Linked DNA regions of Homo sapiens: region 2 is linked to region 1. Evidence: fine-mapped expression QTL. Tissue or cell type: whole blood. Region 1 holds a variant in brackets; the other region holds the start of a gene. All regions are shown on one strand. Distances are between the middles of the regions.

What was found. PIP is the estimated chance that this variant, and not a neighbour inherited with it, causes the effect.
Region 2: it holds the start of VPS16, and the variant in region 1 is fine-mapped to the expression of VPS16 in whole blood (TOPMed, PIP 0.98).

The regions. Positions count from the first base shown.
Region 1 is chr20:3,013,564-3,021,712 of GRCh38, reverse strand. It overlaps PTPRA (protein tyrosine phosphatase receptor type A), which reads right to left. Exons shown (of 24, transcript NM_001385305.1): 12 at 5,828-5,864; 13 at 3,800-3,897; 14 at 285-404. Among named protein-coding and RNA genes, the nearest start is that of GNRH2, 26 kb to the left of the region's middle. The variant A/C (reference allele first, on the strand shown) is at 3,506.
Region 2 is chr20:2,837,266-2,843,839 of GRCh38, reverse strand. It overlaps VPS16 (VPS16 core subunit of CORVET and HOPS complexes), which reads right to left and starts at 3,095. Exons shown (of 24, transcript NM_022575.4): 1 at 3,013-3,095. The coding sequence starts at 3,065. PCED1A (PC-esterase domain containing 1A) reads left to right here and starts at 3,185. Exons shown (of 8, transcript NM_022760.6): 1 at 3,185-3,629; 2 at 3,907-4,051; 3 at 4,569-4,648; 4 at 4,758-4,996; 5 at 5,094-5,244; 6 at 5,362-5,608. The coding sequence starts at 3,928. RefSeq lists enhancers at 2,287-2,818, 3,352-3,883, 5,360-5,659.

The DNA.
Region 1 (8,149 bases):
CAAGCACCTAGGAGACTGCACTGCCTCCCCATGCTCCCTTTCCACAGTGCTTGGTCATATCTAAATGATCAGACTTCATCTCAACAGGTAATTTTTCACCAGTCATGAAAATACTGCTCCTTTAGCTTTGACAGACAAGTTCCCCTGAGCCCGGATATCTGGTTTCAGAATTCACATACTGCATACTCAGCAACTCCTGACCACAGCGGGATGATCCAGCCTGTTCCCTCTTACTGGTCAGCAGATCCAACATAAGAACTGAGAAAGGACAGAGGAGACACTACCTGCTGGATGCAGAACTTCCGTACTGTGTAGTCCACCAGGACAGTCACATCCTCTACAGACACCCGAATATTCCCATAGGTCCAGCAGCCTTGGTCTGGCCAGTACTGGGCGCACTTGCACTGGAAAGAAAAAGACATACATTCCCTGACCTTAGACCTCCTGCCCATGGCAGATGCAAAGGGCCTGGAAGGAAGAGCCCACAAAGCCCAGATTAAAGTCCCCCAGAAGGCCCTTTGACCTCTTCTCTATCTCAGTCAGTTGCACACTTACTTATTCAAATTTGCCCTTTTCTCAAGTTCCTTAGCCGCCATCCTATTGAGCACAGTCTCCTAACTTACACACAGCCCTAGCCCCATACTTCTCAATGTTTCCCACCCACACTCCCTTGGTTCAGGGCGAATCTGAAGCCATCTTACCTACAAAATCTGCACTTTCACAACATTTCAGGTCATGCTCTAGGAGAAAGCCTGTTTGAACCCCTCGAACCAGCAGTCTGCTATGAGGGGGCCACCAGGGTAGACTGATGCAGACTGTAAACCTGCCATGAGAGGCCTAGAGCTTTTTCTGTTGCCTGAGCTTTGGATAGCTTCCAAGAGCAAGAGGTTTGGTTGGAGGAAACTAACCTAAAGCCCAGCCCTAGCACTGTCTTCCCATGCCACTGTGGAGCTGTTGATCATGACACCCGATACCCTAGGATCAAGGTGACTCAAGGGCCATCCTTGAGAAACACGGTAACAAATAGGTATTCCTCGCTGGGGCTCGACCCCAGGACCCAGAATTGGCTCTGGCTGTGGCCCAGTGATAGAGCTGGTTAGGCCAGGCATGCACTTGGTAGCCACAAAAGGAAAAGGCCCAGTTAGGAGGCTGCCTCCAGGATTAGGCCAAGGCCTCAAATTCCCTTTGGCTTGCAGGGTCTCAGTTCATAAAGCTCCCTCTGCTGATCCAGGATATACCAAAGGCCTCAGCAGGTGGGGCAGAAAACCAGGGAAATAAGGAACTAGAGAAACCAGGGGAAAAAAGCTCCTCTGTGGGCCGGGCGTGGTGGCTCACGCCTATAATCCCAGCACTTTGGGAGGCCGAGGTGGGTGGATCACGAGGTCAGGAGATCGAGACCATCCTGCCTAACACAGTGAAACCCCGTCTCTACTAAAAAAAACACAAAAAATTAGCTGGGCGTGGTGGCGGGTGGTACTCGGGAGGCTGAGGCAGAAGAATGGTGTGAACCCGGGAGGCGGAGCTTGCAGTGAGCCGAGATGGCACCACTGCCCTTCAGCCTGGGCGACAGAGCGAGACTCCGTCTCAAAAAACAAAACAAAACAGCTCTCCCTCTCCCTCTCCCCACGGTCTCCCTCTCCCTCTCTTTCCACGGTCTCCCTCCGATGCCGAGCCGAAGCTGGACGGTACTGCTGCCATCTCGGCTCACTGCAACCTCCCTGCCTGATTCTCCTGCCTCAGCCTGCCGAGTGCCTGCGATTGCAGGCGCGCGCCGCCACGCCTGACTGGTTTTCGTATTTTTTTGGTGGAGACGGGGTTTCGCTGTGTTGGCCGGGCTGGTCTCCAGCTCCTAACCGCAAGTGATCTGCCAGCCTCGGCCTCCCGAGGTGCCGGGATTGCAGACGGAGTCTCGTTCACTCAGTGCTCAATGGTGCCCAGGCTGGAGTGCAGTGGCGTGATCTTGGCTCGCTACAACCTCCACCTCCCAGCAGCCTGCTTTGGCCTCCCAAAGCGCCGAGATTGCAGCCTCTGCCCAGCCGCCACCCCGTCTGGGAAGTGAGGAGCGTCTCTGCCCGGCCGCCCATCGTCTGGGATGTGAGGAGCCCCTCTGCCTGGCTGCCCAGTCTGGAAAGTGAGGAGAGTCTCTGCCCGGCCGCCATCCCATCTAGGAAGTGAGGAGCGTCTCTGCCCGGCCGCCCATCGTCTGAGATGTGGGGAGCACCTCTGCCCTGCCGCCCCGTCCGGGATGTGAGGAGCATCTCTGCCTGGCCGCCCCGTCTGAGAAGTGAGGAGACCCTCTGCCTGGCAACCGCCCCGTCTGAGAAGTGAGGAGCCCCTCCGCCCAGCAGCCGCCCGGTCTGAGAAGTGAGGAGCCCCTCCGCCCAGCAGCCACCCCGTCTGGGAAGTGAGGAGCGTCTCTGCCCGGCAGCCACCTCGTCCGGGAGGGAGGTGGGGGGGTCAGCCCCCCGCCCGGCCAGCCGCCCCGTCCGGGAGGGAGGTGGGGGGGTCAGCCCCACGCCCGGCCGGCCGCCCCGTCCGGGAGGGAGGTTGGGGGATCAGCCCCCCGCCCGGCCAGCCGCCCCGTCCAGGAGGTGAGGGGCGCCTCTGCCCGGCCGCCCCTACTGGGAAGTGAGGAGCCCCTCTGCCCGGCCAGCCGCCCCGTCCGGGAGGTGGGGGGGTCAGCCCCCCCGCCCGGCCAGCTGCCCTGTCCGGGAGGGAGGTTGGGGGATCAGCCCCCTGCCCGGCCAGCCGCCCCGTCCGGGAGGTGAGGGGCGCCTCTGCCCGGCCGCCCCTACTGGGAAGTGAGGAGCCCCTCTGCCCGGCCAGCCACCCCGTCCGGGAGGGAGGTGGGGGGATCAGCCCCCCGCCCGGCCAGCCGCCCTGTCCGGGAGGTGAGGGGCGCCTCTGCCCGGCCGCCCCTACTGGGAAGTGAGGAGCCCCTCTGCCCGGCCACCACCCCGTCTGGGAGGTGTGCCCAGCAGCTCATTGAGAACGGGCCATGATGACAATGGCGGTTTTGTGGAATAGAAAGGGGGGAAAGGTGGGGAAAAGATTGAGAAATCGGATGGTTGCCGTGTCTGTGTGGAAAGAAGTAGACATGGGAGACTTTTCATTTTGTTCTATACTAAGAAAAAATCTTCTGCCTTGGGATCCTGTAGATCTGTGACCTTACCCCCAACCCTGTGCTCTCTGAAACATGTGCTGTATCCACTCAGGGTTGAATGGATTAAGGGCGGTGCAAGATGTGCTTTGTTAAACAGATGCTTGAAGGCAGCAGGCTCGTTAAGAGTCATCACCACTCCCTAATCTCAAGTACCCAGGGACACAAACACTGCAGAAGGCCGCAGGGTCCTCTGCCTAGGAAAACCAGAGACCTTTGTTCACTTGTTTATCTGCTGACCTTCCCTCCACTATTGTCCTGTGACCCTGCCAAATCCCCCTCTATGAGAAACACCCAAGAATGATCAATAAAAAAACAAAACAAAACAAAACAAAACAACAACAA[A/C]AAAAACCCCTCTGTGGCTTTTCCTTAGCTGATGGCCCAAGTCAGTCTCTTTCAGGCTGTTCTGGAACCAGGGTGAGTTGTTTGACTACCAAATACAGGGAATGTGCTCTAGGCACACACCTGAGGTTCATATCTGGGGCTTCCAGGCCATAGCAAAGTCTGATAGACTTCAGCCTGTGTCTTTCTGGATGAACTACTGGTACAGCACCCACAAAGGATAGACAGCCAGGCTTAAACTCAGAGCTTATATGCAGAGTGATCCTTCTGCTGTTCACATCCAATTTTTCCACTTACCTCCTTTCTCTCCTTCAGGTTGGTAACCATGACGATGGTGGCTGTGTTTTGTTCCCAGATCATCCGCCAGAAATCATTCACCGTTTCTTCTTTTGGTCCTAAAGTAGCCAACAGCAAAAATGAAGAGAATATACACCAAGAAGAAAGATGCTGGGAGGCTGGGAACATCCATTCCTGACTTTTGGAAGCTTGTGCCCAAATGTCCCCAGCTAAATATCTAACCCATGTATCCATCCACCCCGTTACTAATTGAGTATTTTCCATGTTTCTACCATGTATGTGCCAGGCACTGCACAAGGATGGGGCTGGGTGGAAGGCTGTCAAAAATATAAACAGAACACGAATGATGTCTCCCAAGGATATTACAGTTGGGAATTAGAAATCATGACTGCTCACAGAATACCTACATTATGGACCTGACAGTGAGCTAAGTGCTTCATATGGCATTTACTCCTTCCTATTATGCTCTGAGGTGGGTGTCATCAGCCCCAGAAAGGTTGGATGACTTGTTCAGGCTAGAATTCAAAATTTACCTCCCATATAACCTTTTTCGGAAAGTCACTAGAAAATTCTAAACAAAAATGAGAGGCAAACAGAGGAAAATAAATGAGATCCAACACAGCAGAGAGGCTAACGGAATTCCCAGGGTACTGGTCTTAGAATGATAACTCTGCCAGAGGATAGAGAGCAACCAATCCACAATGCAACTGAAGAAAGAAGATTCTAGAAGGATCCCAAGATAAAAAAATTAAACCTCATGTATCTAAAGGTACTGAGAGAAGATATATACTTCTGGTAAAGAGTTTGGGAGGAAAATCAGTAGTAGGTATATAAAAAACACAATGACTAAAAAAGAAGGGGGAAAAAAACTATACAAAAAATAACATAATACTGTGTGTTTCGGCTGTGAATATTTGTAAACTCATAATAATAATAAATACCTTAACCCCAAATTGTGATTTGACTCTTCTGGGAGAATGGGGAGGATATGTGGGTACACGTCTGTCTGACTGAGGGGGAGGTGCTCTGTAAGGGGATCAGATGATGTCATCTATCATAAGAAGCCAATAGATAAAAATGGTTGCCCCAGGGGCATTAGACTAAAAAAGTGAAAAGAAAAGGGAGGAGAACTTTGTTTTTATAAATCTTGTAGTCCCTAATGACTCTTTTTCTTGAGACAAAGTCTCACTCTGTCACCCAGGCTGGAGTACAGTAGTGCAATCTCAGCTCACTGCAACCTCTGGCTCCCGGGTTCATGTGATTCTTGTGCCTCAGCCTCCCAAGTAGCTGGGATCACAGGTGTGTGCCACCACGCCTGGCTAATTTTTAGTAGAGACGGGGTTTCACTATGTTGCCCAGGCTGATCTTGAACTCCTGGGCTCAAACGATCCTCCTGTCTTGGCCTCCCAAAGTGTTAGGATTACAGGCATGAGCCACCCTGCCCGGCCTCAATTACTTTTTAATGCTGCAAACATCCAGATATTTTTGCTAGGGTTCAAAGAGTGAAGACAGTTGTTAGAACAGCAGGCCTGGAAATGTGTGTAGAACACATAAAGGACATGGTGCTGGGTCCCTGATCTGAGGGTTCCTAGACCAACTATCTGTGAATAATGGTGAGGCTCAGGCCCATGAGCTGGGGGAGAACCAGCCTGGACCCTGTGAGGTGGCTGATCCTCTCTGGAAACTGATTCCTAATTCAAACTCTGAGCAGCCTGGCTGGAACCTAAGGTTAACTAGCCCCAAGGACAGAGGGCCTTATTAGACTGTGTTTTGTGTATACAGCCTTTTCCAGTCTTTTTAATATACATACACAAAAAGACTTCTTTTAATGGATCCCTGGATACTAAGTCATCAAGATGAAGGCTGTTAGCTGTAAACCTGTATAATGGATTATAATTCTTTCAGGTGGTAAAAAGTACAGAAAAGCTACAGCATTCTGGTTAATCCACTCAGCATTTGGGAGAAAAAAACCAAACCCATTATGTGATCATGGTTAAATCTAACAGAAAAAAGTTGTCATTACTTTACCTTGTGCAGCAATGAATTTGTTCTTTTCTTGGTAGCCCTGGGGTGTGGGGAAGGAAAGAAAAAGAAAGAGAAAACCAAAAATGAATAGAAATGAAATTCTCCAGTCTGACTCCAACCAGTTAACAAAACCTGAAAATGTGCAGGTACTTAACGGGGATTTCCAGTCTAGATATTCACAAGGGATTAGCTTTAGAGCTAGGAATTAGAGATTACAAAACTCAAATAGTCTAGGTAGTCTTCTCAAATTGAATTATTAATAAATACTAGAATAAGAAATCCAGGCCAGGCGTGGTAGCTCACACCTGTAATCCCAGAACTTTGAGAGGCCAAGGTGGGCGGATCATCTAAGGTCAAGAGTGTGAGAGCATGGGGCCAACATGGTGAAACCCCATCTCTACTAAAATACAAAAATTAGCCGGGCGTGGTGGTGCACTCCTGTAATTCCAGCTACTAGGGTGGCTAAGGCAAGAGAATTGCTTGAACCTGGGAGGTGGAGGTTGCACTGAGCCAAGCCAAGATTGCGCCACTGCACTCCAGCCTTGGTGACAGAGCAAGACTCCATCTCCAAAAAAAAAAAAAAAAGAAAAAGAAAGAAAGAAAAAAGAAATCCAAATACTGACTCCCAGATTAGACCATGTTTCTGATGCTTTATCAGCAGCTAACAATGTAGATTTCAGTGTTAACAGGTTAAGAACCCACCAGGGGAAAAGCATATGTGGTGGTTCCAGGGATGAAGCTGGGTTCACTCTGGGAAAGAAAACAGGTTATTTTCTCAAGGATGCTTTACCCAGGTGCAAAATCTTTCTGGGAATAGCCTGTGAGTGTGGTGAAGTAGCTCCCAGTGTTTAACAAGAGGCTTCTCTATCACAGGCAGTGGGGGACAAGAGCAAGGGAGCCTGGGGTGCCACTCAACAGATAAGGAGCCTCGGAAAAACTAACAACTGGCCGCAGCTTTCTTTTTCAGTCTTTATTGCTCCAGTTATACATCTTTTCAACGTCATTGTTTAAATGTATGTTCAATTCAGAAGTTCTAGGTAAGAGAAAGCCACTTGATTTAAGGATTGTGAATCACCCATTTCCTTTCTCAGACAGCAATAAGGTGAGTAACAAGGGAGGCAGCTTCAGGGATGGGACACCATGTCACACCAACACCAGGGTGGCAATGTGAACTACAAGGCTGCAAGGCAGTGGCCAAATATAAGAAGTGGCCTAAATCTGAGGAGCCACTTTCTTTTTTTTTTTGAGACGGAGTCTTGCTCTGTCACCCAGGCTGGAGTGCAGTGGTGCGATCTTGGCTCACGGCAACCTTCTGCTCCCGGGTTCAAGTGATTCTCCTGCCTCAGCTTCCCAAGGAGCTGGGATCACAAGCATGAGCCATCACGGCCGGCTAATTTTTGTATTTTTACAAAAATTAGAGATGGGGTTTCACCATGTTGGCCACGCTGCTCTCGAATTCCTGAACTCAGATGATCCGCCCACCTTGGCCTCCCAAAGTACTGGGATTACAGGTGTGAGCCACCGTGCCTGGTCTGAGGAGCCACTTTCAATTTCAGTTCAAACAAGGGCAGGGCAGGGTTGCTGCCCAACACAGAAGGAGAAAGCTTTAGGCCTCAGAGATGGATATGTTTAGTCAGCAACAAAAGACTTGTTAAAGTTTTCATTGAGAAGAGCAATTTAAGTTTCAACAAATGTTTTTATTTATTAGAGAATGGAAATGGAAATAGCCTTAATTCTGGATGTTAAATTCTGCTTATATTACTAAACTTATAATTAAAACTGAGAAGTCCTTAAGAATACGTTAAGCGCATCATATTCCTGCTCCATGAGGAGTCACTGCTAAATTCTCATTGCAGCATGCGGGCCCTGAACAGCCTGAACACCTGGTTGGAAGGCCCAGCCCCAAAGTGCTTCCTGCCCCATCTTACCAGGAGTGCGTCATATGCCTTCCTGAAAACATGCTTGTACAGTGATGTGGCGGCACTGCTTAACTAATACAGAGTAATGAGAATGAAGCAAAGCCACTGATCTTGTGTTCTGTTCAAGGGAAAGATGAAATGTGGCTCCCTGGCTCCTGAGATGTCTCTAGATTCTGAAAGCTGAATCTCAGTGGGCTCTAGGTGGTAGCTACATTCCTACCTCTAAAAAGAAACACGTCTAAAGATCCTATATATTCTAGGCTGGGCGCGGTGGCTCATGCCTCTAATCCCAACACTTTGGGAGGCCGAGGTGGGCAGATCACCTGAGGTAGGGAGTTTGAGGCCAGCATGACCAACATGGAGAAACCCCATCTCTACTAAAAATACAAAATTAGCAGGTGTGGTG
Region 2 (6,574 bases), 180 kb after region 1:
CACAGGTAAGAGTAGATTAATCATTCAGATTGTGTCTGTGGCATGCACCCAACACATACATTCTTTTAAAACCTTATTAACATGTCAACAAAGCAAAGACTACATCTGACAAATAAGAGCTCTGTGGTAATGAGGTCAATGTCTGCAGTACTCTTTGATTTAATAAGCCTGGGTAGGCAACAGGTATCTTCAAAATAATACAAGTAAAGTTGATATTTTAAAAGTGAATGTTGTATCAACTAGCTGGTGTGTAAATACTAAATGACATGGCTACCTTGGTCAGCTGAAATTCCTTCTCCACAGAAACAAGTTGAAATCATTTCCTACTGCATTTATGGATTTTTAATGAAGTTTTTGCAATTTTTTCATACTGCACAGGCATATTTCTTTTCTTTTTTTTTTTTCCCCAAGATGGAGTCTTGCTCTGTTGCCCAGGCTGGAGTACAGTGGTGCGATCTTGGCTCACCGCAACCTCCGCCTCCCAGGTTCAAGCAATTCTCCTGCCTCAGCTTCCCGAGTAGCTGGGATTATAGGTGTGTGCCACCACGCCCGGCAAATTTTTGTATTTCTAGTAGAGACGGGGTTTCATCATGTTGGCCAGGCTGATCTCGAACTCTTGACCTCGTGATCTGCCTGCCTCAGCCTCCCAAAGTGCTGGGATTACAGGCGTGAGCCACCACGCTCGGCCAATTGCACAGGCATATTTCTAAGAGAGAATTATAAATAAACAACAAATGCAACAGGTCTCTAAAAACTGCCACAGGGCACTTGTCCATCTAGGAAGTATATCACATTAGGTACCAAAAATTACATTTAAAAGTTTTAATATGTCAGTGAGAATGGTATACAGTTTCATTAGCACAAACAAATGTCTTCTATTTAAGTAAGACCCCCATGCAATGTCTTTGTGATCTTTACTTGCAATCCATAACATATATCTATCTATCTATCGATAGATACATCTATCTATCTATCGATAGATACATCTATCTATCGATAGATACATCTATATGTCTATCTATAGATAGATACATCTATATGTCTATCTATAGATAGATACATCTATATGTCTATCTATAGATAGATACATCTATATGTATCTATAGATAGATACATCCATATGTCTATCTATATATAGATACATCTAGATGTATCTATATATATATAGATACATCTATATATCTATCTATATCTATCTATCTATAGATAGATATAGATAGATATATCTATATATAGACGGAGTCTCACTCTGTTGCCTGGACTAGAATGCAATGACGCTATCTTGGCTCACTGCAACCTCCGCCTCCCAGGTTCAAGCGATTCTCCTGCCTCAGCCTCCCAAGTAGCTGGGATTACAAGCACCTGCCATTATGCCTGGCTAATTTTTGTAGAGACAGGGTTTGACCATGTTGGTTAGGCTGGTCTCAAACTCCTGGCCTCAGGTGATTCACCCACCTTGGCCTCCCAAAGTGCTGGGATTACAGGCATGAGCCACTGCGCCTGGCCTAAAATAATATTTTTAATTTTTCAGAGGGAGTATGCTATGTTGCCCAGGCTGGAGTGCAGTGGTTATTCACAGGTTCTAACATCGGTCCCTACACCCTCAAACTTCTGGGCTCCAGTGATCCTCCTAACTCAGCCTCTCCAGTACCTGGGACTATAGGAACATGCCACAAAGCTCGGCCCAGTAAAATATTTTTAAAAAACTTTAATGGGCAATTATTACATAGCAAGCACTGTTCTAAATATGCACTGGTGATAAAGAGAAGCAAGAAACATGCTTTTGGCCGGGCTCAGTGGTTCACGCCTGTAATCCCAGTACTTTGGGAGGCCAAGGTGGATAGATTGCTTAAGGTCAGAAGTTCAAGACCAGCCTGGCCACCATGGTGAAACCTCACCTCTAGCAAAAAATACAAAAATTAGCCGGGCGTGGTGACAGGGGCCTGCAGTCTCAGCCACTCGGGAGGCTGAGGCAGGAGAATCCCTTGAACCCGGGAGGCGGAGGTTGCAGTGAGCCGAGTGCCCCTGCACTCCAGCCTGGGCAACAGAGGAAGACTCTGTCAAAAAAAAAAAAAATGCTTTCAGCCCTGAAGGAGCCTGGTTTAGCAGAAGAAACCTATACAAATGTCGCCTAAATATACAAATAGACCATACCTAAAAGACCCTAGCACTGGGCCCAGTGAGGCCCACAGGATTCTATTGGGGGAGAATCAGGCACAGTTCCAGAAAGAACCCTTGAACTACTAAGTCCTGAAGGATGCGCAAAATTCTTCAGTGAGATAAAGAGAGAAATGGCAGTATCCACAGAAACTGCAGACTGGTTAGGGCCTTGTAATTCTGCGCAGCTGGAACGCAAGATTTGGGTAGGAGAGCGGTAGATGAGGTTGGAGAGACAAACGGGCTGCCTTACAGATAGACGTTCCACGAGAAGTTCGTAGTTTTTCCTATTAGGGAAGCTATGGGAAAATCCTAATCTGGGTAACGATGTAACGGGTTTACACTTTAGAAAAATCCGTGGTTTAGGACTCTACAACTCCCATGGGCGGGCTGCCCTAACCCAGGGGTTCCCACTTCCGCTGTTCCGGGATTCACGGACGACTCGCCCCCTTTTCCCAGCCTTGGTCAGCACTGTTACCCCGCCCGCCGTGCGATCCCGCCCCCCTCGGAGCGCCCCTGTGGTCTGACTTCAGCAGCACTTTCCGGCAGGAGACTGGGCACTCGCTGTCACCCGCGAGCTGCCTCCCTCAGCGAGATCTGAGCATCTTTCCGGAGGCTAACAGACCTGGGCTTCGGGGTGACCACTGTGCTTGCCTCAGTTTCCTTTTCTGGAGCAGGGGAAGGCCCGGCTCCCTGCCCAAAGGCGGCTGTGCGCTAAGTGGCAGACGCTCGGGGAGAGCCGGCGCGGGGCGGACCCCAGCGCCAGTAGTGACAGGGGCGAACGCCGCCGGGAGACTCCAGCCGGCGGGCGAGCAGGGTAAGCCAGGCCGTGGGCGGGAGGGCGGGGCAGCTCACCGGTAAAAGGCAGAGTCCCCGAGTGGGTTCCAGTTCGCCGTGTAGCAGTCCATGGCTGGTGCAGACGGCAGCTGGGAAGCACCGAGGGGACACCCACCTAGAGCGGGCTCCAGGCCGGCACTTCCGCTTCCGCCCGTCCGGGTCACGTGGCGAGGCCGCCGCCGCGGCCATCACCACTGTGGGCAGCCTCACTTGGCTGCCGCCCCGAGACCCCAGCCCGTACCTGGGCTTCGCGCCCGCCAAGTGGGCCCAGCCCTGGCTCCTGCGCCCTGTGGCGGCCACCTCCATCGCCTTGCTTTCCCTTCGGGCACTGGGGGTCGCTCAGGGCGGGACATGGGTGAACGGAAGTGGAAGCTGTGAGCGTCGCAGCCCGAGGCGCCGAGGCCTGAGGCGCCGTCGGGGCCACAGCGACGCTCGCATGGAGAGCGCTGGGCGCTGGGCTGTGCACCGACGGCTAACCTGGACCCACGGTCTCTGCGGGGCGGGAGCTTTGCAGAACCGACTGGCCGACTGGGGCGCGGGAACATGAGGCTTGGCTAGGAGCCCGCTGCGGGCCAGGCGCGCGGTGCGCAGGCATACCCGGGTCGCGGGTGAACACCGCGGAGCCCCGGGACTTGGTAATTGGCGCGAGCGGGTGCGCGCATGCGCGGGACGGCGGCGGGCACGTGGCGAGGCGCAGGGCGGCGCCGCGCGGGAAGCTCCCCAGTGCCCTGGAGGCCTGCTGGCTGGACGACCCCCTGCCTCTGGTACCAAGTGTGACCAAGGCTGGCGCCACCATGGCTCTGCTGCCGTCACCTCCTCCCTTTAGCATTGAGCAGCCCCGGAGGGGCTAGCCCTGAGGCTGACCTGCCCAGAGTCCCCACCATCGCGCTGCTTAGTGGCCTCTCCCTGCAGCCTGTCGTTGCTGGTGGCGGCATGGTCTTCTGTCTGTCGAGCGAGGAGCCGCGCCGCCCGCTGCGAAGCGACATGGTCCACTTCCAGGCCTCGGAAGTCCAGCAGCTGCTACACAACAAGTTCGTGGTCATCTTGGGGGACTCCAGTGAGTGCCTCTTCTAGGGTGACGCTTCCAGTCCCACACCTTGCAGCCCGTTCAGTGTGTCTGGACCATTTGTTTCCATCTCACATCTCTTGTCTGTCTTCTGGTCTGTTCCGTCCAGTAGGTTTTCTCTTTTTATGTCCCACACATCTTCCACAGGAGTCCTGACAGGTGTAATAACCTGTGCACTTTTTAGCCCATCCTTGCTCAGCATTTCTCGCCCTGACAGCTCCCCATAATTTCCATCACGAAAGCGTTGCATTGTGTAGTGTGTCTCCTGGGTGACTTGGCCGACTTAATTTCTGCCAGGTGATCTTGGGTCACTGTATACTGCTGGCCAGGAGGCACACAGAACAGAGGCAATGCCAGGACTTTTTAACCTCATCTTTTCTCCTGCGTCTAAGTCAACCACAGAGCTGGTGTCGGGCACCTCAGCCCTGGGAAAATGGGGTCCTGGACTTGGAAGGAGCTGGGGCAGGCTGAGGTCTGCCTCAGCCTTGGGATCTCTGTCTCCTCCCAGTTCAGAGGGCTGTGTACAAGGACCTGGTGCTCTTGCTCCAGAAAGACTCACTGCTCACAGCTGCCCAGCTGAAAGCCAAGGTGAGGGAAGCTTGGTGGCCATGTCAGTGGTGGGTGGGCACAGACCCTGGCCTGGCAGGGTTCTCCTCCCTGGCATGGGTCTGACCAGTAGGGTGGGGGGGGTGGGTAGGGGGAGCTGAGCTTTGAACAGGACCAGCTGGTGGCTGGGGGCCAGCTGGGCGAGCTGCACAACGGGACACAGTATCGTGAGGTCCGCCAGTTCTGCTCGGGCTCTGGCCACCACCTTGTGCGCTTCTACTTCCTCACTCGTGTTTACTCCGAGTACCTTGAGGATGTTCTGGAAGAGCTGACATATGGACCTGCCCCGGACCTGGTGATCATCAACTCCTGCCTCTGGGATCTCTCCAGGTTGGGGCGAGGGAAAGGGGAATACTGGTTGGGGCTGGAAGTACGGCTGAGGCAGTCCACCCTTGTGCTCTTGCCCACCCTGTGTGTTATCCAACAGATATGGTCGCTGCTCAATGGAGAGCTACCGGGAGAACCTGGAGCGGGTGTTTGTGCGCATGGACCAAGTATTGCCAGACTCCTGCCTGCTGGTGTGGAACATGGCGATGCCCCTCGGGGAACGTATCACTGGGGGTTTCCTCCTGCCAGAGGCAAGTGACTGAGGCCCATCAGGACAAGAGATGGGATAGCAGACTGGTAGATAGGACACCCTGCTTTCAGACCCTGCTGCGTTCTGTGGCTCTTAGAGGCTGCACTTTCTCACTTAGCTCCAGCCCCTGGCAGGCTCCCTGCGGCGGGATGTGGTTGAAGGGAACTTCTACAGTGCTACGCTGGCCGGGGACCACTGCTTTGATGTCCTAGACCTCCACTTTCACTTCCGGCATGCAGTACAGCACCGTCATCGGGATGGTGTCCACTGGGACCAGCATGCACACCGCCACCTCTCACACCTGCTTCTGACCCATGTGGCTGACGCCTGGGGCGTGGAGCTGCCCAAGCGTGGCTATCCCCCTGGTGAGCCCTACCATAAGTGGGGGGGTAGTGATGCACTGGGGCCCTCAGAGGACAGGGCTCAGAAACAGAATGGGACACAGCCACTCAAGGGAAGTAGAGGTCCCTTGAAGGACTCCTGTGGCTTCTGCATGCACCTTCCTCAACCCCTGAGGAGGGTTAGATCATCGGAGCAATATTCTTGTCCAAGTTCCAGTTTTCTACAGTCTGGCTGTGTAGTCATTTCTGTGTGCTTGAAGGAGCTTGTACAAGTATTGACCACATAAGGCAGCATGTTGCAAGGGTCCTACCCAACAGATTAACAGGAAAGAAATGGGGCATGGGTGTGAGGAGTGGAAAGACAGGGAGGAAGGGCCATCCAGGCAGTGTGGCAGAAGCAAAGAAGCCCACAGCTGGGGGGTGGGGGTACAGTCAACTGGCAGGGTGTGGAACAGGGATGTTGCATCGGGAAGGCCAGCCTTATGGACTTGGGCTCAATGGACAGTGTTCCATAGGCTTCTTAGTTCAGCCTCAGAGTCCCACTGTGACTGGTGCAGCTTGGTGTAGCTCTCCTCGGGCCCCATCTCTGGGCCTTTGGTGGAGGCTTCTGAGGGCCCCACTCCCCCTTGTTTTGAGGCACTGCTCCCCATCACATCTCAACTGTAACACTCTGCTGCAGAACCTCTGTTTCCATGTCAACACCCTAGTCCCTGCATGCACACAAAGAGGGCACCATGGCTGATTGTCTCCATGGCTGCTTCTCCCCTGCATCGTGTCCTTAAAGGGCAAGTTTCCTGCTGCACTTGTTGACGACTCACCCCTTTCAGCCCCAGTGTCTAGCACAATTTCCCTGTACACAGTATCAACAGAATTGTATTTGTTGAATGGGAGGCACGAGTCATGTTAGAAGGCCGATTATGGCAGCACAAGAGGATGTGGGGGCACAGAGAGTCCAGGAATATCATAGAGACAGACCTGTAACACTTGGTA